Homo sapiens: one gene and its partners. The protein of the gene in region 3 interacts with the protein of the main gene of each other region in a pairwise test. Each region holds a gene or a part of one and is shown on either strand. Other genes may lie near its edges. The genes, in order: NACA, CAPN2, NUPR1 and MPHOSPH6.

Evidence for each region.
Region 1: the proteins of NUPR1 (region 3) and NACA interact in a two-hybrid assay, tested with the Homo sapiens proteins (one study listed by BioGRID).
Region 2: the proteins of NUPR1 (region 3) and CAPN2 interact in binary tests that used the Homo sapiens proteins (3 or more experiments, as listed by UniProt).
Region 4: the proteins of NUPR1 (region 3) and MPHOSPH6 interact in a two-hybrid assay, tested with the Homo sapiens proteins (2 studies listed by BioGRID and IntAct).

Annotation. Positions count from the first base shown.
Region 1 is NC_000012.12:56,722,272-56,729,373, forward strand, and holds the start of NACA (nascent polypeptide-associated complex subunit alpha), read right to left. Parts: upstream 3,029-7,102; 5' UTR 2,992-3,028; exon of another isoform or gene 2,691-2,991; intron 2,279-2,690; exon of another isoform or gene 2,253-2,278; 5' UTR 2,251-2,252; coding exon 2,181-2,250; intron 1-2,180. UniProt on the Homo sapiens protein: Cardiac- and muscle-specific transcription factor. May act to regulate the expression of genes involved in the development of myotubes.
Region 2 is NC_000001.11:223,715,512-223,722,544, reverse strand, and holds part of CAPN2 (calpain-2 catalytic subunit), read right to left. Parts: intron 4,784-7,033; coding exon 4,714-4,783; intron 1-4,713. UniProt on the Homo sapiens protein: Calcium-regulated non-lysosomal thiol-protease which catalyzes limited proteolysis of substrates involved in cytoskeletal remodeling and signal transduction. Proteolytically cleaves MYOC at 'Arg-226'.
Region 3 is NC_000016.10:28,532,180-28,536,023, reverse strand, and holds the end of NUPR1 (nuclear protein 1), read left to right. Parts: 3' UTR 1-3,316; downstream 3,317-3,844. UniProt on the Homo sapiens protein: Transcription regulator that converts stress signals into a program of gene expression that empowers cells with resistance to the stress induced by a change in their microenvironment.
Region 4 is NC_000016.10:82,167,208-82,174,833, forward strand, and holds the start of MPHOSPH6 (M-phase phosphoprotein 6), read right to left. Parts: upstream 3,018-7,626; 5' UTR 2,969-3,017; coding exon 2,918-2,968; intron 1-2,917. UniProt on the Homo sapiens protein: RNA-binding protein that associates with the RNA exosome complex. Involved in the 3'-processing of the 7S pre-RNA to the mature 5.8S rRNA and play a role in recruiting the RNA exosome complex to pre-rRNA; this function may include C1D.

The DNA of each region.
Region 1 (7,102 bases), on a different chromosome or scaffold from region 3:
CAATCCAAGATGAATTAGACATGAATTAGACCTCCAGGCAGAGAGCTTACTCACAAGGGTAGGGACTGTATTATGAAACTGTAACCTAACTTGTTAAACCAGATTGTGGTGCTATTTTGGAAGAAGAGAATTGGAGAGCCTGTAACAGTGGCTCATGCCTGTAATCCCAGCACTTCGGGATGCCTGGGAGGGCGGATCACGAGGTCAGGAGTTCCAGACCGACCTGACCAACATGGTGAAACCCCGTCTCTACTAAAAATACAAAAATTAGCTGGGCGTGGTGGTGTACACCTGTAATACCAGCTACTCAGGAGGCAGAGGCAGGAGAATGGCTTGAACCCAGGAGGTGGAGGTTGCAGTGAGCCAAGATCGCGCTACTGCATGCACTCCAGCCTGGGTGACAGGGTGAGACTCCGTCTCAAAACAAAACAAACCAAAGAAGACAATTGGAGTGGCGAGAATACACTGGATCCCCACTCCTTAACTTGGAATTTAAGTGTTTCATTATGTCAAAATACACCAATGTTTGGCATGACAGTAAGACAGTATCTCTGGCATTCAGGAGGTAACACAGAATTGGATCAACAAATGCTCAATGCTTAGAAGGGAATGTTAAGGGGGGCGGGGGGGAAGCCCGTGGTACCAAAATTCAAATTCAAAATTCACTCAACCAGTAATTCTGAAGTTCTTATGGCATCCTACCATGGAAAAGACAAGGTGGCTCAACTAGTTTTTCCTGGAGAGTGGGTAGGCCAAAGTCTAACGATTACAGGAAAACGCTACCAAACATAATGAATCAGAATTAAAAACATGGAATATGTTTTCTTCTGACTGGACCTCAAATGGAATAAGCACTCAAATACTTGCTTTGACACCATCAACAATTCCTTGAGCTTCCTTCTTCATTCTAATAGACTATCATTACAGATAAAACCTTGTGTATTTATCATTGGTACTTCCTTAATATAAGCCTACTATGCAACTCAGACTATTCAGGAATACGTTTAATAGCATTAAGGACTGTTTCAGAAGTAAATGCATTAGTTTTGAAGCTTGAATCAGATTATTCTAAATTCATCTGAATTTCAAATCTTCGTATTTGTAAAATTAAGTTGTTCAATGACACAATCTCTAAAATCTCGTTTTGTACTGAAATTACAGAATCTTTAGAGAACAGTACTTTATTTTTTCCCTTCCTTAAGCCCCTTGTACTTCAAGAATTTCATATTGTTTATACTCCAGCTTAGAGCCCCCTATTGTCCTTCCTAGCAGCTGTATTAATCCCTTCAGCTGTTAAAATCAAACAGGTGGGAAGAAACTTTATGCTTTCAACTATAAGCAACTCTACTGTAACTCCAAAAAGGGACAGGAATTGCCCTTAAATAACAAATGAAATTTAAAAAAAACCAAAAAGGTGAGAATGAAAATTACAGCCTGAAGATTTCCTTCATTTAACGCTGCACAACTGACTCAGAAAGGCTATCATTTTAAGAACTTTTCATTACCTCCTCCTAAGTTTTCTACAGAGATATGTTTTAACCAGAATTTAAAATTAGCCTTCACAGTCGTTAATTTCGACGCTGAGGATAAAAGGATTTATTTCAATCCTGGGTTTCACACAATGATGCAGGAACTATTCCAGCACACTAGAAGTATCTCAGCACCACCAACCCATAAACAAGTTATCCGACCTAGGACGACTCTGGGGCCCAGTAGGACACATTTACCACCAGCACACATCTCATCCAGACATGTGATAAAGGCACAATGCCAAGCTCTGCTAACTAAAACCTTGATGCAACTTGCTGGCTGGAGTTTCACAAATGCTCCGGGCTCCTTGGCCTGTGTCATCTAGTTCCAATAGGTAAGAATCACTGAGCCCATTCCCTGCTGAGTTTTCCTATGTGAGGTGGGGGTTCCACAGGAGAGCTTCTTTTGAGGCGACAGGCATAACATAGAAAGCAAGCTAGGGTACTTTTAACGTCCACGAATCTTAAAAATATTATTTTTACTCCAAATCCCTAAAGAAGTATCTCCAGGATAGTAATTTTACGGTCTATCCTCCTTGGTAAAGCTGCAACCCCATCCTCCTAAAAAGTGTATTTCCCCTTGGTCATTTTGCCCACCAAATGGCTTTAGGGTTAATTTTAATTAATGGCAAGGAGGGTAGGGAAACCTACCTGTCTCAGCCTGGGGCTGCGGCAACTCCTGCTCTGTAGCAGGGACGGTTTCTGTGGCTTCGCCGGGCATTTCTGAAGGAAGGGAATAAAAAGGAGGCCTAAATTGATTGGGATACATTCACTTGCCCAACCCGGAGATAAGTATTCTTAAAAACTCCGAGGAGGGCTGTTAGAAAAAAATCGTGAGGGTGTTTGGTGACAACCTTCCCCAAAGCACCTGGGAATAAGAGGTAAATATGATGTGACCCTCACGCCTCTATCAAGGCCAGCAATTCCCACTGCATTCTCAACCCGAGGGAGAGGATCCCGGGCTGGCTCTCGATCATGGGAGACTTCAGACGCTACTGTGAACCCCCTCCACTCCTAATACTCACACTGGCTGGGCTGGGGCCTCCTGGACTACGTTTGCCGACTTTGGGGTACCAGGAGGGGAAAGACGGTGTTTTAAGTCCAACACTTGCTTGTCACAGGGAGAACGGTGTTACAGGTTCTAAGGCTGTGACCCCTTACCCTTTTCTGGATCCTGTGAAGCAGTTCCCAAAACAAGACGCACTCCTCTTCCGCCCTCAACACTGCAACTGCTCCCATCTCTGCAGGCTCGGATTCTGGGCCCGCCCCGCAGCCCTTCTACCCTGCTTTTGCCAGGACACCAACCGCAGACCCCATTTTGTCCGGAGGCCCAGGGGCGAGTAGGAACCCTGTGGCCCAGTAAAGCCTCCAACTCTCCTTAACTCTCAGTCCCCGGGGCGGCTTAGCCCGAAAGAAAGGCGGATGGCTGCGGATAGACAGTAGCGGCACAGAAAGTACTTACTGTGCAGGGAACGCGGAACCAAGATGGCGGCAGAAAGACCGAGCGAGAGCGTGACCCACGCCTGTTGCAGAAGGAAGCCTGGAGCGGAGGGGGTGGGACTAGGATCCGATTCCGGGTCAAGAGCTGCCGGCAGCCACTTCCTTTGACGAGTGACTGTCAGGCCGTTCCCACGGCGGGGGTGGTGACAAGGACTAAAGGGTAAGAATTTAGAACGGGACGCGCAGGCCTAGCAGGAGCTCTCTGCGCGGACCCACGCAGTCCTCAGAACTAAGCAGACTCCGCCCTCCGGTCCGCGAAGTGGCGACTGCGGTATTAAGTCGACCTCGCGATTTCTCAAATAGTGCAGGAAGAAGACATTAAATAGCGAATGCTAGAGACTGCATTCACAACATTGGAGGGTGGAAGTGACTTAGGCTAACCAGTTATTTTTGGAACACACGATGTGAAAACATTTAAAAGCTGCTGGACCCTCTCCCCCCCCATCAACAACAACAAAAAAACCCATTTTAAAACTTGAGAGATGTGATGGGTCACATATAACTTCAGTTCAGATTATAAATTTAATTCGATTTTTCTTGTTCTGTTCAATGACTAGAGAGACTCAAACGATGTCACCAGATGACAGCAACTCATGCGTGTTAAACTCTTCGTAAAACAATGTTAGCTGTACCCCCGCCCCCCCCCCAAAAAAAACACTTCTTGTAACCAAATTCTGTAATTATGTTCCAACCTTGTATGGATAACGTAATCCAGCTAAAAACTCCTCTGTCTCCCTAAATAAATGAAATCGTAACTTCTCTACTTCTGAAGGCTGACTCCATTCTTTGGAGGTTTTCTGGTTGGTCCATCCTCACACTGCCCTTGAATAAACTCTTTAAATAGATTCCGGCCCTTTTGATTGTTTTAGGTTCACGACAATTTAGCCGATGTTGAAATTATAAAGCTGCAGATTCTCCTTCCCAGAAAAAAAGAACATAGGCACATATACAATTCCTTTGCTTGCTATTTTGGGCACTTCTTGGATTTTTTTTTTTTTTTTTTTGAGTCGCTCTGTCGGCCAGGCTAGAGTGCAGTGGCACGATCTCGGCTCACTGCAATCTCCGCCTCCAGGGCTCAAGCAGTTGTCCCGCCTCAGCCTCCCGAGTAGCTGGGATTACAGGTGTGTGCCACCACCCCCGGCTAATTTTTTATTTTTAGTAGAGACGGGTTTCACCATGTTGGCCAGGCTGGTCTTGAACTCCTGACCTCAGGTAATCCGCCTGCCTCGGCCTCCCAAACTACTGGGATTACAGGCGTGAGCCACCATGCCCAGCCTGTTTGTTTTGTTTTTGGGACAGTCTCACTTTTATTGCCCAGGCTGGGGTGCAAAGGCACGATCTCGGCTCACTGCAACCTCCCCTTCCCGGGTCAAGCGATTCTCCTGCCTCAGCCTCCCGGGTAGCTGGGATTACAGGCATGCGCCACCACGCCAGTCTATTTTTTGTATTTTTAGTAGAGACGGGCTTTCTCCATGTTGGCCAGGCTGGTCTCCTCCTGACTTCAGGTGATCCGCCTGCCTCGGCCTCCCAAAGTGCTGGGATTACAGGCGTGAACTACCGCCCCTGGCACTTCTTGGATATTCTAAGCTTATTTATTCTAGGTGTCTGGGACCCCACCTTAAACCATGCTTTGTACAACTGTATTTTTGAAAAGTAGAATGTAAAATCAGTGTTGTGTTAATGAAAAGCCTCCCATATCTTCCCACAGCCCTACAAAAGAACTCAACAAATATTTGCTGTACCTGAATTAGCTAAACCAGTCAACATTTATTTATTTTTTGAGGCGGAGTCTCGCTCTGTCGCCCAGGCTGGAGTGCAGTGGCGCGATCTCGGCTTACTGCAACCTCGGCCTCCCGGGTTCAAGCGATTCTCGTCTCAGCCTCCAGAGTAGCTGGGATTATAGGTACCCGCCTCCCCGCCCGGACTCCTGACCGTAGGTTATCCGCCTGCCTCAGCCTCCCAAAGTGCTGGGATTACAGGTGTGAGCCACTATGCCTGGCCTGATTTAATAGCTTTAAGACGACTGTGGCCACCTTTTTTTTTTTTTTTTTTTTGAGACGGAGTCTCGCTGTCACCCAGGCTGGAGTGCAGTGGCGCGATCTCAGCTTACTGCAACCTCCACCTCCCGGATTCTGGCAATTCTCCTGCCACAAAACTTCTCCTGTTTCACCGTGTTGCCCAGGCTGGTCTCGAACTCCTGAGCTCAGGCAATCCACCCGCTTCGGCCTCCCATAGTGCTAGGATTACAGGTGTGAGCCACCATACCTGGTGTGGCCGCCTTTTAAGGGAAGCAGTGAAAATTTAAAATGCTTTGAAAGCTACTTTAACATTTCTGAAATCCTTAGCGTAGTGAAATGAGGATTAGGATTGGTGAATTAAAATTAAGTGAGATAGTGGGGTTTACCAGGAATGGGAAATTCTGAAATCCTCCTCAAATAGGAGAGGCAATATTGTGGAGTCATTAAAGACAGACTCTGAAATAAGACTCCTTTGTCTAAATCTATTAGGTCAGTTTAGGCAATTAACCTATATATATATTCATGTCAGTTTCCTGATCTGTAAAATGGGAAAAATAGTAGCTGCTTGATAGGATTGTTTGGAAGATTAAATTAGTCTGTGTGTATATATACACACACACACTCACACTCTAATTGGAAGGAAAAAGAAACAGTCTATCTCATAAAATTATCCCATGTAATCTTTACATAAAACTTAAAAAGTTTGTTACTATTAAATTGTAGACATAATCAATTTCTACCTAATAAATACATGATCTGGAAGATTTTCAATGCAGTCCTTTAGTCCATTTACCTTCAGAAGGACCAGAAATAGCCAATTTCCTTAGACAAAAGTACATATTCACAATTTTTCTTTCTTCCCCAGCAAGCCCACTTACTTTTTCCTCTCTCTGTAGTAATGACTAGCCAAGGAAGGATGTATTTTTTTTTCCTTTTTTTTTTTTGAGACAGGGTCTGGCTCTGTTGCCCAGGCTAGAGTACAGTGGGGTGATTATGGCTCACTGCAGCCTCCGCCTCCTGGGCATAAACGATTCTCCCACCTCAGCCTCCCGAGTAGCTGGAACTACAGGCACACAACACCACACCCAGTTAATTTTTGTATTTTTTGTAGAGACGGGGTTTTGCCATGTTGCCCAGGCTGGTCTTGAACTCCTGGCCTCAAGTGATCTGCCCACTCTGCCTCCTAAAATGCTGGGATTACAGGTGTGAGCCACCACACCCGGCTAGCGTGTTTCTTAAGTTGGCAATTTTGAAGATAGAAGCCATTTCTTTGCCCCTTTGTTTCTACAGTTCTAATATGTGACTGAATTGGCAAATCAAGAAAAGGGGAAGTCAGTAGTCCTTGGGTATATTTTTGCTGTCTTTAAGAACTAAACATTGGCTGGGCGCCGTGGCTCACACCTGTAATCTCAGCAGTTTGGGAGGCCAAGGCAGGTGAACTGCTTAACTCAGGAATTAGAGACCAGCCTGGGTAAGATGGCAAGACCCCGTCTCCACAACAAAATAAAACGTAAGCCTGGCAAGGTGGCGCATATCTGTAGTCCCAGCTACTCCAGAAGCTGAGGCACGAGGATCCCTTGAGCCCAGGAGTTAAGGCACTTCAATGCTAGACATATTTATAAAATGATAATGAAAGCTGAAAATGTCTCTTTTTGAGGCCGGGCGTGGTGGCTCACGCCTGTAATCCCAGCACTTTGGGAGGCCGAGGCGGGTGGATCACGAGGTCAGGAGATCGAGACCATCCTGGCTAACACGGTGAAACCCCATCTCTACTAAAAATACAAAAAATTAGCTGGGCATGATGGCACGCACCTGTAATCCCAGCTACTCACGAGGCTGAGACAGGAGAATGGCGCGAACCTGGGAGGTGGAGTTTGTAGTGAGCCGAGATGGCGCCACTGCACTCTAGCCTGGGCCACAGAGTGAGACTCCGTCTCAAAAAAAAAAAAAAAAAAAAAAGTCTCTTTTTAAAAGCATACCAGTCTTTCCACTCTCCTTCTGAGTTCTTTACTGATTAGTTCTGGAATAATGAGTCTCTAGTAATTTTGTATTCAG
Region 2 (7,033 bases), on a different chromosome or scaffold from region 3:
ATAAGGCAGAAGGATTGCTTGAGCCCAGGAACTTGAGACCAGCCTGGGCAACACAGTGAGACCCCATCTCCACACAGACACACACAAAAATTAGCCAGGTGAGGTGGTGCGTGCCTGTAGTCCTGGCTACTTGGAAGGCTGAGGTGGGAGGATTGCTTGAGCCCAGGAGGTCGAGGCTGCAGTGAGCTATGGTTTTGTTACTGCACTTTAGTCTGGGCAACAGAGCAAGACCCTGTCTCAAAAAAAAAAAAAAAAAAAAAAAAGAAAGAAAGAAAAAGAAAGAAAGGAAAAGAAATAAAAATTATTTAAAACACTTAAATATTCAATTTTTAAAATTGAGGAATGCACATCTGACCCCTTTGTGTTCATTTTCTCCCCATATGTTTCTCCTTCTGAGTTTCAATCTGTGTGTTACCCAAACACAGGCCACAAGTTTGTCTCTCCTCGTTTTGGCATTTCCACCCTTAGATTATGAAATTTTCAAGGACAAGGATCTGGTTTCCAACCCAACTTATTTTCTTCTCCTCCTTTTCTCTTCCTCCACCATCCTCTTTTTCTTCGGCAATTTGGCAAAAGGACTTTTCACATAACTGGAATCAGTAATGATAATCCTGGTCCCTTGAATTTGTCTGGGATTCTATAGTGTGCCAAGTGTGTTTGCCTGTATAAATCTCACTTTTCTCCACAGCCCTGGGAAGGGATCCTTATCATTATTCCCATTTCACAGAAGAAGAAACTGAGGCTCAGAGGGGTTGGGTCCAAATAAGTGGCTAATGAGTGGTAGAAGGAACAGGACTGGAAAATTCCCCATCTGGCTTGCCTTTCCCATTGGTCTTGTCCCTTCCCCACTCTCTGCTGAGCTAGGCTGTGGGGTGGGGCACCCTGTAGCTAAACACCTCCCAGTGGGTGCTCTGGGGGTCCATGTGACATCTTGAGAAGGAGGCAGGTTGACCCACCTCTGAGGGGCCCAGGGAACATTTGCTGGGTTACAATGAAATGGGGGTGTGCTGTTTCAACAGCCTTGGCAGCCTTGGGCTCTACCCCAGGAAATCAGAGGCCTGCAAGGTGACCTATGCCTTCCTGGCTGGGGTAGCTGCCTTCATCCGTGAGCTGTGAGGCTGTGGGGAAAGCTCAGTGGTGACCCAGTGCAAAGTAAAGCATCAGAGGTAGGAGCAGCTCAGCCTTGGAGTTTCCTGGGTCCTTGGGAGCCATTTCAAGTGGCAAGCACCTGTAAGAATGTGGTTATTACCCCACGATTTCAGAGCCATATTTAGCTGCAGGGTCAGCCAGTGGAGGCTCCAGCTGGGTCTCCAGCCCTTCCTCCAGAAGGGCAGATTTTTCTCTGCTGAATCAATTCTTACACAACTATATTCTGCAATGGAGATGGCTCTTGGTGAGAGCAGCTCTGTAAACATGGTTTAAATGACTTTGGTGAAGCTTGGAAGCTGAGCCTTCTGGGAAGGAGCGTGGGTGTTTGTGGATTAAACATTGCTGGGCAGCACAGTAAACAGGGCAGGGCGTTGCAAAGTGCACAAGTCTAAGAATGTCACCTGCCCAAGTTCCCTGGGGGAACTGAGTAAGGCTCAGGGTAGAAAGCGCAGGTAGAGAAGATGAATTTTGCTGAGAATGGTTCCTCAGCACAGCACTATGGCAAATTGGAGGGAGCATGGGTTAGGAAGAGTGTAGGATTCAAAATCAGACCAGGGTTCAATCCTTTGGCAATTACTAGCTGTGTGGCTTTACACTTACTCTCCCGTCTCTGTGGCTCAGTTTTTTTTTATCTGTACAGTGAGGTGAGAATATTTACTTTAGATTTGGGATGAGTACATGAAATACTGTAGTGAAAAAATGCTCTATGAATTGCATACTGTTATGCAGGTGATGGGTACTGTTATTACTCCTTCTGTGTGTAATAAAAGAATGATCTTGGCTGGGCGCAGTGGCTCACGCCTGTAATCCCAGCACTTTGGGAGGCCGAGGTGGGTGGATCACTTGAGCTCAGAAGTTCAAGACCAGCCTGCGCAACATGGCAAGACCCGGTCTATACAAAAAAATACAAAAATTAGCCAGGTGTGGTGGCGTGTGCCTGTAGTCCCAGGTACTCAGAAGGCTGAGGTGGGAGGATCACTCGAGCCCAGGAGGCCAAGGCTGCAGTGAGCCAAGATCCTGCCAGTGCACTCCAGCCCTGGGGAACAGAGTGAGACCCTGTCAAAAAAAAAAAAAAAAAAAGAGAGAAAGAGAGAAAATAAGGATGATCTTGTAGTGCTCTAACCCTCTAGCACAAGGAATGAGGAGTAGCTGGTTAGAAACCCGGGAATGGCTTTAGAATAGCTGAATACAAACTCATAGGGGGTGTCTGAGGTCACTCCATTTACCCTCCTTCCTTCTCCGTTTTTGGAAGAGACGGAGGTTCCAGATGGAAGTTCCAGGTAATTACTTGCCCAGTCTTCGGACTACCAACAGAGCTGAGTCTAGGCTCATATCTCTGGCCATGTCACAGAGTGTCACTGCCATGGCCTCTGTTCCTGGTGCTTGTGAGGCTGTTGGGATTTGGTGAAGGTCAAGGCCCCATCAGCACCCGCTGGCCAGGTGCCAGAATCAGGGTGAGAGTACAGTATACCACATTTCACAGATTGTGATCTAACTAGAGTCCTCCAAAATAAAAGGCTGAAAGAACAAAATGACCAATACTGCATTATACGCGCGCGCGCGCACACACACACACACACACACACACACGCACACACCCCTGAGAAATTACAGACTAGCTACTAAGAAATTTTTAAAAGGTTTACATTTCACCTGGTTTATAATTCCCCTGGGAGGGAAATTTCTCCCAGGAATGTTAACCTTTGCTATCTCCTCTCCAATTGGCCCAGTGGTATTTACACAGGACTTAAATCATGTATTTGTTGCTTACACTTTGGCACTTAAGGTGTTGTTAAACTCTGAAGCAGATGTTAGGCAGTTGCTGTGTTTGTTTCTGGATTCTCTCTCTTTTTTTTTGAGATGGGGTCTCTCTCTGTCACCCCGGCTGAAGTGCAGTGGTGCCATCTCTACTCACTGCAACCTCTGCCTCCTGGGTTCAAGCAATTCTCCTGCCTCAGCCTTCTGAGTAGCTGGGATTACAGGCACCCACCACCACGTCCAGCTAATTTTTTTGTATTTTTAGTAGAGACAGGGTTTGACCATGTTGGCCAGGCTGGTCTCTAACTCCTGACCTCAGGTGATCTGCCTGCCTCGGCCTCCCAAAGTGCTGGGATTACAGATGTGAGCCACTGCGCCGGCTGTTTCTGGATTCTCTAAAGCCCCCGGGGTTGGTCAAAGTTTCCATCAATTCCATTTTCTCTAATGAATAGATTTTCCTGGAGGATCCGCCTTGGGTGCTCAAGGACCTCTATCTTCTGTCTTTTGTGGGGCGAGAAGAAAAGAAATGAAAGGAGTGTTTTCTGCAGGTAAGAATGTGCTCTGGCATCTCAGGAATCTGCAGAGCCTGAGCTCAGACAAACTTTCCCGCCCAGCTCATGTTCTTCCTCACAGTCTGTCTGTCCTAATGATTCACATGATGCTCTGACATTCCTCAGGGCTAGAAAATTTTCCAGGTCCCGTCTTAGGGAGTCTAGCTCAGGAATTAAACATACCCTGGGGTCAGGGGTACCAGCCACCACTTTAGCTGTAGGAAGACCTCTGCATCCTCATCTATAAAATGGGAATAATCACGGTGCCTTAGAGATACATATTAGCTGTTATCAGCTGGTATTAGGAGTATATGAGTAACAGAACCTCTGCTAGGTGGGTGAGGACAGGAGGTACAACTCTAGTTGACTGATTTTGCTACTGATGAACTTGTCTGGGGAGCCAGCCAGCTGAGGCTGATGGCAGAAAATAGATTTTTGGTTTATCAGAGCAAATAATCTGCTCTAGTAATTATAGGCCCACATTTATTATGAGTAAAAGAACATTGAGGGCAGATTCTATGAGAATCTTAGATAACAGCGCCAGGCCCCATTGCTGGGACTTCCTAGAAGCTTTGGGAATTTTCATACTAAAGGTGGAGAACCCTGTGGGTTGAAACCTTCAACAAGGACTATCTCCAGAAACAAATCTGAACTCGGCTCCAGAAAGCAAGGTTTTGGACAATTCAGCTACTCCAGTTCATTTTACTTAAATGAGCGTTACAACTGTGATACCATGGTGAGCTTGTCTTGCAAACACTGAGAATGCCCTGGTACTATAACTTCCTTCAGCAGCGAGCATTAGAGTTTCCTCTTTCTTTACACTGAGTCACCTTCCCTGGTTCCTGAACCTCACAGAACTGATGTCTCAGTGCTGTCATTGGTCTGGGGGAGTCCTCCCACCTAGTCCTCTGCCCAGAGTGTATTTCGTGAACCACTGGTAATGCTGGCTCCAGGAGGTGCATACCAAGGGGTGGCTGACATCCAGAAGCCCCCTGGTCCTCCTAGTGGCAGCATCTCTGTAACCTCAGCAACTAGCCCTGTGCAGGGGACACAGGAGGCCTCATTTGTGTGCCCCAGCATGGGGCTGAGGGTAGAATCATTGCCCGCTAGGGCCAAGAAATTCCATGGAGCTTCTCTGCAAATAGAAATTGCCAAGCTGCTTGGGAAGGGAGAGAAGCCACAGGTTGTCCCTCATCTCTTCCACCCACAGCCTTACAGACAAGATCCCCCAGCTTGCTCTGAATCTATCACTTACCCAGGGCTCCTTGGCAGATGTCTGTGCGGGTGGCTCCTCCAATGATAAACTGGGGGTCAGCGCAGATCTCCTGGGAACGAGACCCACAAAGTGCTGTTAGCCTACCAGCCAGGTGCTTCTGCAGCTAGGATGCCTCCATTCTCAGTGGGGTCTTCTAACCCCTTCTCCCCTTCCCCTCCCCTCTGGGGAAAGTGTGTCATCACAGTCAGAACTCTGTGTCATGAGGTCCTTCTGACCCCTGCTCCCTGGGCCCTGATGGGTGGATGGGTGGTCCTGTCTGAGAAGGGCAGGCATTGGACCCTGCACACTCTGGACTGCCTGGAGCCTCCTTCATTGTGCTGTGTCCCGGGGGCCACAGCAGCAAGTCCAGCCTTTTCTGCCAGACGTGGAGACCATCCACACTCTAGAGCCACCCTATCCACTGGGTTAGCATCCTCTCTCCTCTGTTACTGCATGCAAGTTGTTTTGCTTGCATGAAATTCCTTCCTTTCCCACTCTCTTCCCTCCTTTTCCATATTGCATCATACCTTGAGGCTCATTGTCACCTCCTCCGTGAAGTCGTCCTAGTCCAATCCTCACTCATCCCTTCAAGTCTGAGTCCCAGAGTCTCTGGACTCTGCAATTTACTACTTAGGTATTACTCTGATTTCCTAACACATACCCTTTTGAGGGCAGGCGGGATCTAACCCTTTTGAATTCTTCCATGGGACCATGAAACTTACAGCATCTATATATTCTGTACCTGCTTACATCAGAGACTGTGCTCAAAGCTTTACCTCATGGAATGGGTATTATCCCCCTTTTACAGACGAGGAAACAGCTCAAAAAGGTGAAGTGACGTGTCCAAAGTTAACACAGTTCACAGATAATAGACAGCACTGGCATTGGAACTTACTGATCAAATGCGCCAACTCTTTCTGCTCCTGCCCTGCCTCTAATTGATTTAGTACCAAGCGTTCAAGGGTGTTAAAACCTCAGGGGCCATTGTCATGAGCAGCCTGATGGAAGCCAACCTTGAACACTTCTTAGCCCTTTCAGCAGCCCTCTGAGTGTGTTTCGATTCTGAAGAGCCCCACCCAAAAGCCACAGAGGAAGTTGGGGCACAAATTTGAGCCTCTCTGGGCTCAGGCAACCTTGCCTTGAAGGAGCTGCGTCTCATGTCTGCTTGGGTTGCACACGCCTGCCTCCACCCAACGGCCCTCGGCATGCCCACTCTGTCAAGCAGAAGTATGCCTATATGAGACTTGGATCTAGCCCCTGTTCATTCTAGCTCAGATTGTGGGAGCTCTTCCGGAAGCACCATCTGCCGCAGAGGACATTCCCTTCATGCCTCTGCCTTGTTTCTCTCTGCTCCTGTCAGTTTTGGGGATGGCAGAGAGAATCAGAATGCTCTTCTGCTGAGGCAAAGGAAGCCAGCTTGGCCCAAGGCCTGCCAGAGAGCTCTTATCCAGCTGATGGAATAGATTGGGCTTGGTGCTGGGAGCCTGTTTATTATAAAGAATCACACTGATAATCCTGAGTGTGCCAGGCACTTACTCCAGCAGGGTTTTTCCATTATACTTCAGAAACTTTCTAATGCCTTTAGCAGCCTCTCTAGAAAAGTCAGAGTTCAGAGTGGTGCTAAACACCTAAGCATCTAAGCGATGCTTCAGAAAACTGAAACTTGTGCACGGCATGTAGGGCATCGAATTAAATATGGGTCTTACCAGTCAGTGAAAAGGGGCTGAGGGTTTGGGCTTTGCTGCATTATTCTGATAACCTAGGTTTGAATCCTGGCTCTGCCACTTATTATGTAGGTCGTAGGACCCTGGGAAGTCACTTAACCTTTTGAAGTCTCAGTTTTTTCACCTGCAAAATGGGAACGATGAAAACACCCACCACAGAGGATTGTTCTGAGTGTTAAATGAGATAATGATGTAAACATGCCCTGGCAAGCACTCCATAAATGTGATCTATTATTATTACTGTTGAAGAAGTTGATGATAACAGTCACTGAACTTGGAGACAGGACATATGGGTTTGAGGCTGAGTTCGGCCAGCTGAAGATAAGCAAGTGAGAAACCTCTCAGAGGTTTGATTTTCTTGGGGGAAACATAGGGGCTCACAACATCTGCCCTTGCTCCTAACAGACTGGTTGCTGGAAGGATCTGATGTGCCACCCGGATCACACCTGCTTTCTCCTCACTGTACCCCTGCATGGCCCTTGGACCCCACTGGACTTACTGCTTTAATCCCCGCTCCAGGCACTGGAGCCACTCTTGCCAGTGTTGTGAAATCCTCTCTCCGAGGAAGAGCAGCTCCTCCTGCTGCAAGGCTAACC
Region 3 (3,844 bases):
GGTCTCAAACTCCTGGCCTCAAATGATCTGCCCACCTCAGCCTTCCAGCCTTTGGGAGGCCAAGGAGGGAGGATCGCTTGAGGCCAGGAGTTCGAGACCAGCCTAGGCAACATACCAAGGCCCTGTCTCTACAAAAATTTAAAAATTAGCAAAGCATGGTGGCTCATGCCTGTAGTCCTAGTTGCTCAGAGGCTGAAGTTGGAGGATCCCTTGAACCCAGTTGGAGGCTACAGTAAGCCATGATGGTGCCACTGCACTGCAGCCTGAGCAATAGAGTGAAACCATGTATTGAAAAAGAAAGAAAGAAAGAAAGAGAAAAAGAAGGAAGGAAGGAAAAGAAAGGAAGGAAGAAAGAAAAGAAAGAGAGAAAGGAGAGAAAAAGAAGAAAGAGAGAGAAAGAGAAGAAAGAAAGAAAGAAAGAAAGAAAGAAAGAAAGAAAGAAAGAAAGAAAGGAAGGAAGGAAAGAAAGAAAGAAAGAAGGAAAGAAAGAAAGAAAGAAAGAAAGAAAGAAAGAAAGAAAAGAGCGAGCCCCGGCACAGTGGCTCACACCTGTAATCCCAGCACTTTGGGAGGCCAAGGCAGGCGGATCACCTGAGGTCAGTAGTTCGAGTTCGAGGCAGAAGTTGTGGTGAGCCAAGATCACGCCATTGCACTCCAGCCTGGGCAACAAGAGCAAAACTCCATCTCAAAAAAAGAAAAAGAGAGAGAAAGAAAGAGAGAAGGAGGGAAAGAAAGAGGAAGGAAAGGAGGGAGGGAAGGAGGGAAGGAGGAAAGGAGGGAAGGAAATATTAAGGGATTTGCCCTAGCTCACTCAGGGCTCATATTCAGGGATCTTATTGTCTTCAGATATGAGGTGGGTCCCCAGGCCAAGGGGGCTGTGGGACAGGGTTCTGGGAAGTGAGATGGGGGAGGGAGATTCTTATTCAGTGCTATGTCTCAGGACCAGAGTTGAAGAAAAATATGGGGCAAACAGGAAGTGTGGTTGGAGCTGAGATTATTTGTTGATTGAGATACAGGTTTGGGTTGCTATTATGAAGAATCAAAACAGGATACAAAGTTACTCCTCTCTTACTTAGCCCCAAGTCCTCCTGGGTTCAAATGGCAGCTCCATTGTGTTGAGGATTCCAGCTATTTTTACTCACTGTTCTGCCACACCCAAAACATGGCTTCCACTTTGAGGCCCAAAATAGCTACTCCAATACCTGCCATCACGTTTGCATCTCAGCCTGTGGAAAGAGTGTGGAAGAGACAGAGGAGGCCACACCTCTTCAATTTTAGGGCATAATCTAAAAGTAGAACACATCACATCTGCTCCGAATGTGGCTACATGGCCACACCCAACTACGAGAGAGGTTGGGAAATGTAGCATTGAGCTGCTTAGCCACGTGGTAGCCAAAACTTGGGCAACAGCAGGGTTTTATGATGAAAGGGAACCAGAGAGAGTGAATACACGAAGAAGCTAGCAAGAAACATTGCCCACATGCAGACTCAACAGATGTCGGGGGAGAAAACTCTGAGATTGGGCCCCGGGCAGAGCCTGTTTCCTTTTCCCCTGTCCCTTTCACATAAGCCCCACACTGCAGAACTTGGAGTCAGTGGTTCATGGGGACCCAAGGACATCCACAGAAGACCGAAGTACCTGATAGAGCAGGAACAGATGCACGTCAGACTACGACCAGCTTGAACCCTTGGGGACCTGTATCCATCCCCTTCCCTTGAGTCCAGCCTAATCACAGCCACAGAATGAATCCATGACCCGGAAGGACATTTAAGGACCTCTGGCCCAACTCTCCCCACGCAACAGTGGGATTGCCTCTGCTTGTTTGAATACCACTATGGAGGGGGAACTTGCTACATTTAAAGGTTGCTGAATTTTTTTGTTTTGTTTTGGGAGATGGAGTCTCTCTCTGTCGCCCAGGCTGGAGTGCAGTGGTGTGATCTCGACCCACTGCAACCTCCGCTTCCTGGGTTCAAGCGATTTTCATGCCTCAGCCTCCCTAGTAGCTGGGACTACAGGTGTGGGCCACCACACCTGGCTAATTTTTGTATTTTTAGTAGAGACGGGGTTTCACCATGTTGCCCAGGCTGGTCTCAAACTCCCGACCTCAGGTGATCTGCCTGCCTTGGCCTCCCAAAGTGTTGGGATTACAGGCTTGAGCCACACCACCCGGCAAAGGTTGCCTAATTCTATCTCAGGGCAAGTCTGTTCATGTGGGCTGAAATCTGTCTCTCATACCTGCCCTTAAATAAGCTTCTGTTTTTCTGGTCCTTTCTGTCTGAGATGACTTTAATTCCTCCCCCGACCCCATCTCATGAGGCTCAGCTTAGATGTTTCCTTCTCTTCCTCCCTGATGGCTGCGTGCAGAAGCTCATACCTGCAATCCCAGCACTTTGGGAGGCCGAGGTGGGAGGATTGCTTGGGCCCAGGAGTTCTAGGCCAGCCTAGCAACACAGCAAGACCCTCTCTCTACAAAAAATTAAAAATTAGCCAGGTGTGGTGGCTTGTGCCTGTGGGCCCACCTACTCAGGAGGCTGAGGTGAGAGGATCTCTTGAGTCTGGGAGGTGGAGGCTGCAGTGAGCCATGATCTCACTCCAGCCTGGGCGTCAGAGTGAGACCTGTCTCAAAAAAACAAAAACCAAAGTTTTCCTTAACTTGCAATCCTCCACCCATCTCCTGACCTCCACCCCAGGCCGACCCTCCTCTGGGATCACACGGAAGCCTGGGCCCAGAATCTTACAGTCTACCTTGGAAATCCTTCAGATTTTGCCTCCAACTCCTCTTTCCATACAAGTTACATATTAACTCAATCAATGCTTATTGGATGCCTTCTGAGTTACCAGGATGCTGCTGGAGGCCTGTGCTGCTGAGAGGGACAAATAGAATCCTGATATGACTGGAACCAGGAATAGGGCCACCATCAGCTCTAGAACCCAGGGAGCAAATGGCAGGAGCAACACCAGGCAGTCGGCCCTCAGCCCAGCACAGACCTGGTGTGTTGGCTTCAGAAAATCCTGGAAACATCTCTGCTGTGTTTGGAGCTCCTATTCTGTGAGAAGTGTTTTATAGGCTTTGCTCCATTTAATCCTTACGATAACCCAATAGGACATACTATTAATGATCCCCTTTTTTTCAGACCGGAAAACTGAGGTTCGGAGACATTAAGTAATTTGCCTAAAGTCACACAGCCACATCCTGTAGGACTTGGAATTATGAACTCAGGTCTATCTGAATTTTAAAGCCTGGATTTTTCCCCCTTTGCTACATGCCTGGGAAGAACCATGTATTGACAATGAAGAATCCTAAACTCTCGTTAATTTCTGGTCAATTACTCCTCTGGGCCTGGGTTTCCTCACCTGTCAAATGGTGAGACTGGCCTCTCTTCTGTCAAAAGAGAAAATGAAGGCTGGGAAGCACTGTGTCCCTAGCTGGAATGGCCACTCCCTGTCCTGGGTCCTTTGACACCAGCCAGGAGTCCTCACACACTGCCCCTCCCTCCTGGCCTCTGATTGGCCTTTCCTGGCCTCGCCCTCGCCTGGCACAGCCTCTGCCTGAGAGGCCTTTAAGTGGCTGTTCTGGGAATTAAGGCAATTCTTGGAATTGCAGAATTTTTGGATCCGAAAGGATCCTACCCAGACTCTTCCTCTTCTGTCTCCATCCCCTTTCCTAAACCCTTTCTTTTTCTTCTGGTTGCATGTCTGTTTCCCCATTTTGGGGGGATCCCCCTGAGAACTAGAGAAATCACTGACCTCTGTCCTACCCCAGGGGCTTACAGAATTGGCCCTGTCAGGCTTCTGTAACTCAAAGGACTCCCGACTCCTTGCAGAGAACTGAGAAACTCACCA
Region 4 (7,626 bases), about 54 Mb from region 3:
ATAAGCACCCTCTACAACCATTCCATACTGGAAGACCTTCCATCCACATCCTTCTTTTTCTTCTTCCCATTAGGATCACCCTGCAATGGCTGACCAAGTCAGAGGCATTGAAGTGAGTCAGGATTAAATCCTCAACCCTCTTATACTTGCCTAAAAAGTGGTCCCCAACCTTTTTGGCACCAGGGATGGGCTTCCTGGAAGACAATTTTTCCACGGGTGGTGGAGAGGGGAAGGGTAGATGGTTTAGGGATGATTCAAGTGCATTACATTTATTGTGCACTTTGTTTCTATTATTATATTATAATATGTCATGAAATAATTATACAACTCACCACAATGAAGAATCAGTGGAAGACCTGAGCTTGTTTTCCTGAAACTAGACAGTCCCATCTGGGTGTGATGGGAGACAATGACAGATCATCAGGCATTAGATTCTCGTAAGTAGAGCGCAAGGTAGATCCCTCATATGCACAGTTCACAGTAGGGTTTCTGATCCTAGGAGAATCTAGGATTCTGCCACTGATCTGACAGGAGGCGGAGCTCAGGTGGTAATGCAAGCTATGGGGAACAGCTGTAAATACAGATGAAGTTTCGCTCGCTTGCCTGCCCGCTGCTCACTTCCTGCTGTGCAGCCTGTTCCTTACAGGTCATGGACTGGTGCTGGTCCATGGCCTGGCGGTTGGGGACCCATGCTATATAGGACTTAGCTCTGGTTAAGGCACCCTAAGTGCAGCTACTCCATGCCTTCTCACAGTATACTCTGTTCTATCAGTATAGACAGTGTCTCCTGCTATCTTGCCAGTAAGTTTTTTCTTATCAATGACCAAAGCTGCTAAACCAAATAGAGAATGTGGGTGATCTTTTTCCTTCTCCTTTGCTTCCAACGTCCAGTTGAGTCTCCCCATTTGGTGGGGGTGGACATTTAAGTTAATTTCTTTCTTCTTAGTTGCAACTCGGATATTTAGTTTGAGCCTGAGTCACCCAGTACATCATCTGGCTTATTCCAAGAGCTAAAACAACTGCTAAAATCTTTCCAATATCTGCTTGGCCAATTCACTCCACTTCTCTGAAGTTAATGTTATTACCAACCATAAAATCAAACTCTGTTCAGTAAAGATTCAAATTTTGCTAATATGCATGAAAGTGCTTGACAAACTCTAAGTTATGCTGCAATTTGTCCTCCACCCTCATTCACCCATTCATCCCTAACTCCATCCTAGCTCAACTCCATTCAAATCTTGCCCATATAATGTTTACTCTCTCTCTTTTTTTTTTTTTTTTGAGACAGGGTCTCCCTGTGTCACCAAGGCTGGAGTGCAGTGGCGCCATCTCAGCTCACTGCAGCCTTGATCTCCCAAGCTCAAGTGATCCTCCCACCTCAGCCTCCCAAGTAGCTGGGACTAAAGGTGCGTGCCACTAGGCCTGGCTAATATTTTGTATTTTTTGTAGAGATGGGGTTTCACCATGTTGCCCAGGATGGTCTCAAACACCTGGGCTTAAGCGATTTGTCTACCTCAGCCTCTCAAAGTGCTGGGACTACAGGCATGAGCCACTGCGAATGGCCTATCTTTCAAAACATTATGAATGCTTCCTTCCCTCTTTTGGAAATTCCACCTCTTTAAACATGACATGTAACAGTTTGCTACTCTCTAGAAGTAGTGCTTAGTGACAGGCATCACAGAGTACAGAGTAGTAATAAAGAGCCAGGGTTCTGGAGCCAGACTGCCTGAATTCCCGTCCTGTCTACACTACTTATTAGCTGTGTAACTTTGGGTAAATTACTTATTTCTGTTTCAGTTGCCTTAGCTGTAAGAAGAGAGTTACTGCCTGTAGTCACCTCAAAGTGTCATTATGTGAATTGCATAGGTTAATATACGCAAACCACTTCAATCATTGTCTAGTACTATAAATATTTGCCATTTTCTTGATACTGTTCCCCGTTTCAATAGCTTTCCATTGCTCACAAAATAAAGGAAAATATCTTTAATCTGGCCTCAAATTCCCTGCACGTTGTGACCATTGCCTACTCTGCAACCCCATTTCTTAGTACTTGCCTTCCAGACATACTGAATTGTCTCTAATTCTTGGAAATTTCCATGGTTTTCTTTTTCTTTCTTGCCTCTCAGACTTCTGAACTCAGTTTCTCCTAGTTTAGGACGCTGTGCCTTCCACCCTCCCAGTAACCTAGAGACTACCCTGCGAGACTCACCCTCTTCTCCCTGGAAGAAGAGGGAGTTCTGCCAGCAGACTGTCTTTGGACTTGGACTGAGTACTTCTCTGGGTCTCCAGCCTACTGGCCCACCCTGCAGATTTTAGACTTGCATCTCCACAGTCGTGTGATCCAGTTTTAAAAATACCCCCTCTCTCCATACACATATATACACATATACATCTTGTTGATTCTGTTTCTCTGAAGAACTCTACTAAAAGAAGTATTATCAAAATTAAAAAGGAGCTTGAACTCATGTAGCCTAATGCTCTTCTTTTTAAAGATGAGGAAAAGAGATATTCAGAGAAAGAAGTGAATTTACCTAAATTACCCAGCTAAGGAGTTACACTTCCCATATATCATATTTATTGCATATATAAGTAAGCAACAACTTCTCGAGAAGCTCGGTGAGTCCCCAAGGTCCCCAGCGCTTCTACCCTCACTGCACTGGGTAAGCTGTACCCTGACTGCTTCTGTGTACTCAAGCTCCCATCCGCCCGCGGGCCTCCTGAGAGAGTCGGCCTAATTCGTAAGCTGGTTCCCAGTAAACAGTGCAGAGCAGGCGCTAAGTGAATGAATGAGCACGAGAGCTGGAAGCCCTCTGAGGCCTCTCTGGTGTCCCTTGTCCGCCCGCCGCCTCGGCCCCGGCCAGGTTGGAAGGACCGGGTGCCCCTACCGCCCGGAGTGGCGCTCTCAGCGTCCCCGCACCTTCATGCGCAGTAGATTCTTGGACAACCTTGTCTTTCGCTCGGCCGCCATGGTAGCTTCCGCCCAGCGCCGCACTCCGGCCGCGAGCCTCACCGCACATGCGCGGAGCCGCGTGCGCAGCTGCGTCCCTCGCGTAGTGCGCGCCGCCCCGCCCCGCCCCTCCCCTGTGTCTTGCGCGCGGGCGCGGCCACTCAGCGGGCGCTCTGCTGACTGAGAGGCTCGGGTAAGCTCGCGGGGTGGCGGGCGCGGGGATGAGCGCGGCAGACCGCAAAAAAGCCGAAGTCAGAGGACGACCCAGAACTTGGCTTCCCCGAGCCGCGGGTCGCCTTCCCGGGACGTCGGCCTGGCCCCCTCGGAGGCCCATCCTCCCTCGGGGACTCCCTTCCTCAGGGACCCCCTCCACACTCAGTAGTCCTCGCCAGCCTCAGAGAGGTTTCCGCCACGCCTGCCACCCGCCTGGGCCGTGTTACCCACGTGTTTTGTCTTCATAACGTGGGTGGCGGGCTCCCTTTGTTCTGGGTCGCTTTGCAGGGTCCAGGTCGTTTTCTCTTCACCAGGACCCCACGAGTTGCTGCTTTCCTCACAGCAGCCCGGAGTCCCGGGGGAGCGCGGCGGGGGCCGCCCCAGGCAGGCTGGCTTCATTCCCAGGCTGCTGCCGATGCGTGTCTGGCCGAGTGATCTCTGCTAAACAGAAGAATCTCAAGAAATGGCAAGGGATGGAGGCAGGGATGGGTGCCAAAGACACATGAATGAGAACAAAGCCTGGTTTTGATCCAAAGAATTGAAAAGACCATAGCGAGGGGCAACATAGGGAGACCCCACCTCTACAAAAAAAAAAAAAAAAAAAAAAAAAAAAAAAATATATATATATATATATATATATATACACAAAAAATATACAAAATATACATACAAAAAATATATACAAAATATACAAAAAATGTACAAAAGATACAACAAAAATAGCTGGGTGTGGTGGCACGGATCTGTGGTCTCCACTACTTGGGAGGCTGAGGCTGGAGAATCACTGGAACCCGGGACGTCGAGGCTGCAGTGAGCTGACATCCCGCCACTGGACTCCAGTCTGGGCTACAGAGTGAGGCTTTGTCTCAAAAACAAAACAACAAAACAAAAAAGAATTTAAAAAACCACTGAAAATAGGGTAGCGTTCCTACCCTGGTGTTTAATGCTCTGGGTACCACCTAAACACGTTTTCGAAAACCATTCCCAGGTCCGACGCTTTGGAACACCCTCAAGCTAATAGCATCTCGGCTGATACCATGAGTTCTACGTCAGATTGTTGACCTGGTCACCTTAGGGCTAATTAGTTCACTTAATCCCCATAAGAACCGGAAAGAAGGTATTGTCATCGTGTTGTTAAGGATTCTGAGACACAGAGTGGGTAACGCACTTGGTGTTCACACAGCTAATCCATGTTAGAGCTGAAATTCAAACACCGATTTGGATGTTAAAAGCCCTTTAGGTTTTCCCAGGGGTAAATAAAATCATTGTAATGTACCAAGTGGCTACAGAATCTCATTCACTTGTGACTGTGTGTGAGATGCCGGGGGTATAATAGCGTGTAAAAACACATATCCCCACCTTTCCTGAAGCTGATATTCTGGACGTAAGTAAGTGGCGACTGCTATGAAAGAGAGAAAACAGTGATGTGACAGAGTAACGCTTAGGGTTACTTTAGACCAGGTGGTTTGGAACGGCCCTTGTCAGATGATGGTGCTAAGGCTTGAAAGTTGAGAAAAACGTGTTTTATGAAGAGTTGGAGGTAGAGTGTGCTCAGAAGACAGCATCAACTGTAAAGGTCCTCAGATATGAACAAGACAAAGTCCGTGTTAAAAGTTTTACAAGTGGAAACAGTAGAGGTTAATCATAAGCCACATTGCATCCCCCAAAATTCATATGTTGAAGTTCCAACTCCCAGTGCCTCAGAATGTGAATGTATTTGGAGACAGTCCTTTTTAAAGAGGTGATTAAAACAAGACCCTTAGGGTGAGCCCTAATCCAGTCTGACTGATGTCGTCATAAGAAGAGGAAATTTGGACACAGACACCAAGGTTGTGTTTGCATAAAGGAAAGACTATCTGAAAGCCAAAAAAATAAAAAAAATTTAAAAAATCTCTCAGGAGAAACCAAACCTGCCAACACCTTGATCTTAGACCTCTAGCCTCCAGCACTGTGAGAAAATCACAACCAGTCTGTATAGGGCACCCAGTGTGTAGTGTTTTCTTATAGTAACCGTAGCAGACTAATATACCATACAATTAGCTGTAGATGACAGTTGTGATGAGAGCCCGGTAAGGAAAGTTTGAGGGTCATGAAAGGGTACAACGAGGGTACCTAAACCATTCTGGCCTGGAAATGAGGACTCTCCTAAACGTAGAGAGGAGTTAATCAGGGAAAAGGCCCACCAATCATTCACATTGTTATGCTGCTTTTACCACCATAGGACTCTTCATCTTGCAAAATGAAAACTCTTGTTCCCATTAAACACTAATTCCTCAGGTCCTCACGACTACTTTCTGTCTCTATAAGTTTGGTTTTTCTGTGGGATTCTCAAAGAACTGCTGTGAGAGTAGAGGTGAAGGGAGAAGTGACTCAGTCTGCCTTCTGCACTTGGGAAACTAAGGGGCGACTGAACTAGGATGAACACATGTCTTGTCAGCTTCAGAAGAGGAAAACAGCATTCCCGGCGAAATAAGAGCATATATCTATCATGTAAGGATGCTGGAAGCGCCACACCTTCTCTATGGACCCCTGTTGTACCAGTCTGTGTTCTGATTTGTTTTTCTGAAACATTGACATTATTATGTTATTCTTTCACTCTAAAATTTACAATATCTGTTATTGTCTGAGAGATAAAGCTCACCTTCTTCAACCTGCCACTCAAAATTCTATTTTTCTATTTGATGGTGAAAATCCTTATAATTAAAATGAATCCCCCAAGTCTTTTCCCACCCCTCAACATGTTATAAATGAGAAGTGATTTAAGAGTAATAGTGTAATTTTAACTTTGAAAACTACCTGACAAGATAATTCCTTGATCTTTCTATGCACCTGAATTGCAGAGCACAGAGGATAGATCTCACAATCAATAATGTGTTAACCTGTTGTAGTTACCCAGCCAAAGAAACATCATTTTGAGGGAAGAAATGTTTCAAATAGGTCTTCACACAGTTTTGAGTCCTGTCATAATGGAATTTGTTGGAAGTATGAAAGCCTCCAATTCCTGCCAACTACTATATCCATCAAGAAAAGGTTCCCTGTGACTCTTCACTCCCATAGCAGATCTAAGGCTGTGGTGCCTAGTGCATAGATGCTTGTCATATGTGACTAGTGAGCACTTGAAATGGGGCTAGTGCAACTGAGGAACTGAATATTTTAGTTAATTTAAATTAAATTTTATTATATTATTATTATTATTATTATTTTGAGACAGAGTCTTGCTCTATCACCCAGGCTGGAGTGTCGTGGTGCAATCTTGGCTCACTGCAACCTCGCCTCCTGGGTTCAAGCAATTCTCATGCTTCAGCCTCCTGAGTAGCTGGGATAACAGGTGCCCACCACCACACCCAGCTAATTTTTGAATTTTTGGCAGAGATGGAGTTTCACCATGTTGACCAGGCTGGTCTCGAACTCCTGGCCTCAAGCAATCTGCCTGCCTTGGGCTCCCAACATGCTGGGATTATAGGCTTGAGCCACCATGCCCAGCAATTTAAATGTTAAAAGTAACAGTGTGAGTTATTTTTCTGTATATGAGGCTATATTGTTTTGGAAGGAACATATATCACTTTAACTTTTCAAAATTTAGCATCTGCATTGAGATGTGCTGTAAGTGTAAAAGACATACCACACTTCAAAAGACTTACTCTAAAAAAAATCTCAATATTTTTTCATATTATATATTAATAATAAAGATATATTTGTTTAAATAAAATATAGCCTTAAAACTAATTTCATCTGTTTCTGTTTACTTTTTAAAATGTGGCTGCTAGAAAATATAAAATTACATGTGTGGCTTGCATTTTTTTCTTTTCTTTTTTTTTTTTAAATACTGCAATGGCTATGCATACCTTCCTAGTGCAGAAACTGGAGGAGAATCTGGGGTGAGCACAGGAAGGAACTCTTTTATGCAATGAGACAATGAAGGTGGTATATTAAGTATTAGTTTTTGTTCATTTGTCTGTTTGTAGGTACCAGATATTGAAAAGACTTGTTAAACAAAATGGTGATTTAGAAGGATACTGGGTAGTTCATAGGTGTTGAGAAGGCTTGATAACAAGGCTAAGTTAAAAGAACAGAAACCAGGGCATTCCAAGGAACTTAATGACACAGCAAGAATGGTGAGCACCAATTGATTTCTCTGCTCTTTGGACACTTTACTCAAGTTTTCAAAATCAAGGAGAGAGTTTTGTTATGTCTCAGCTAAGGGAGGGCAGGACCTGATTTACAATTTCAAGAAGACTATACACAATGGGGGAGGGTAATTCTTTAAAGAGAAATTGGGTGCTGTTCCTCAGAGATAGTCACTATACTAGCCACAACAGCAATGCCAAGGACATATCCACTTAAAGCAGGATGAGAGTTCTGTTGAGACAGCTGGAAGGACAGACAAATGGTTGAGTGTGAGTTCCGAACTCATGTCCAACATCAAATCCATCTCGCAAAATGTGCTCCCTCTTTCTGCTTCCCTG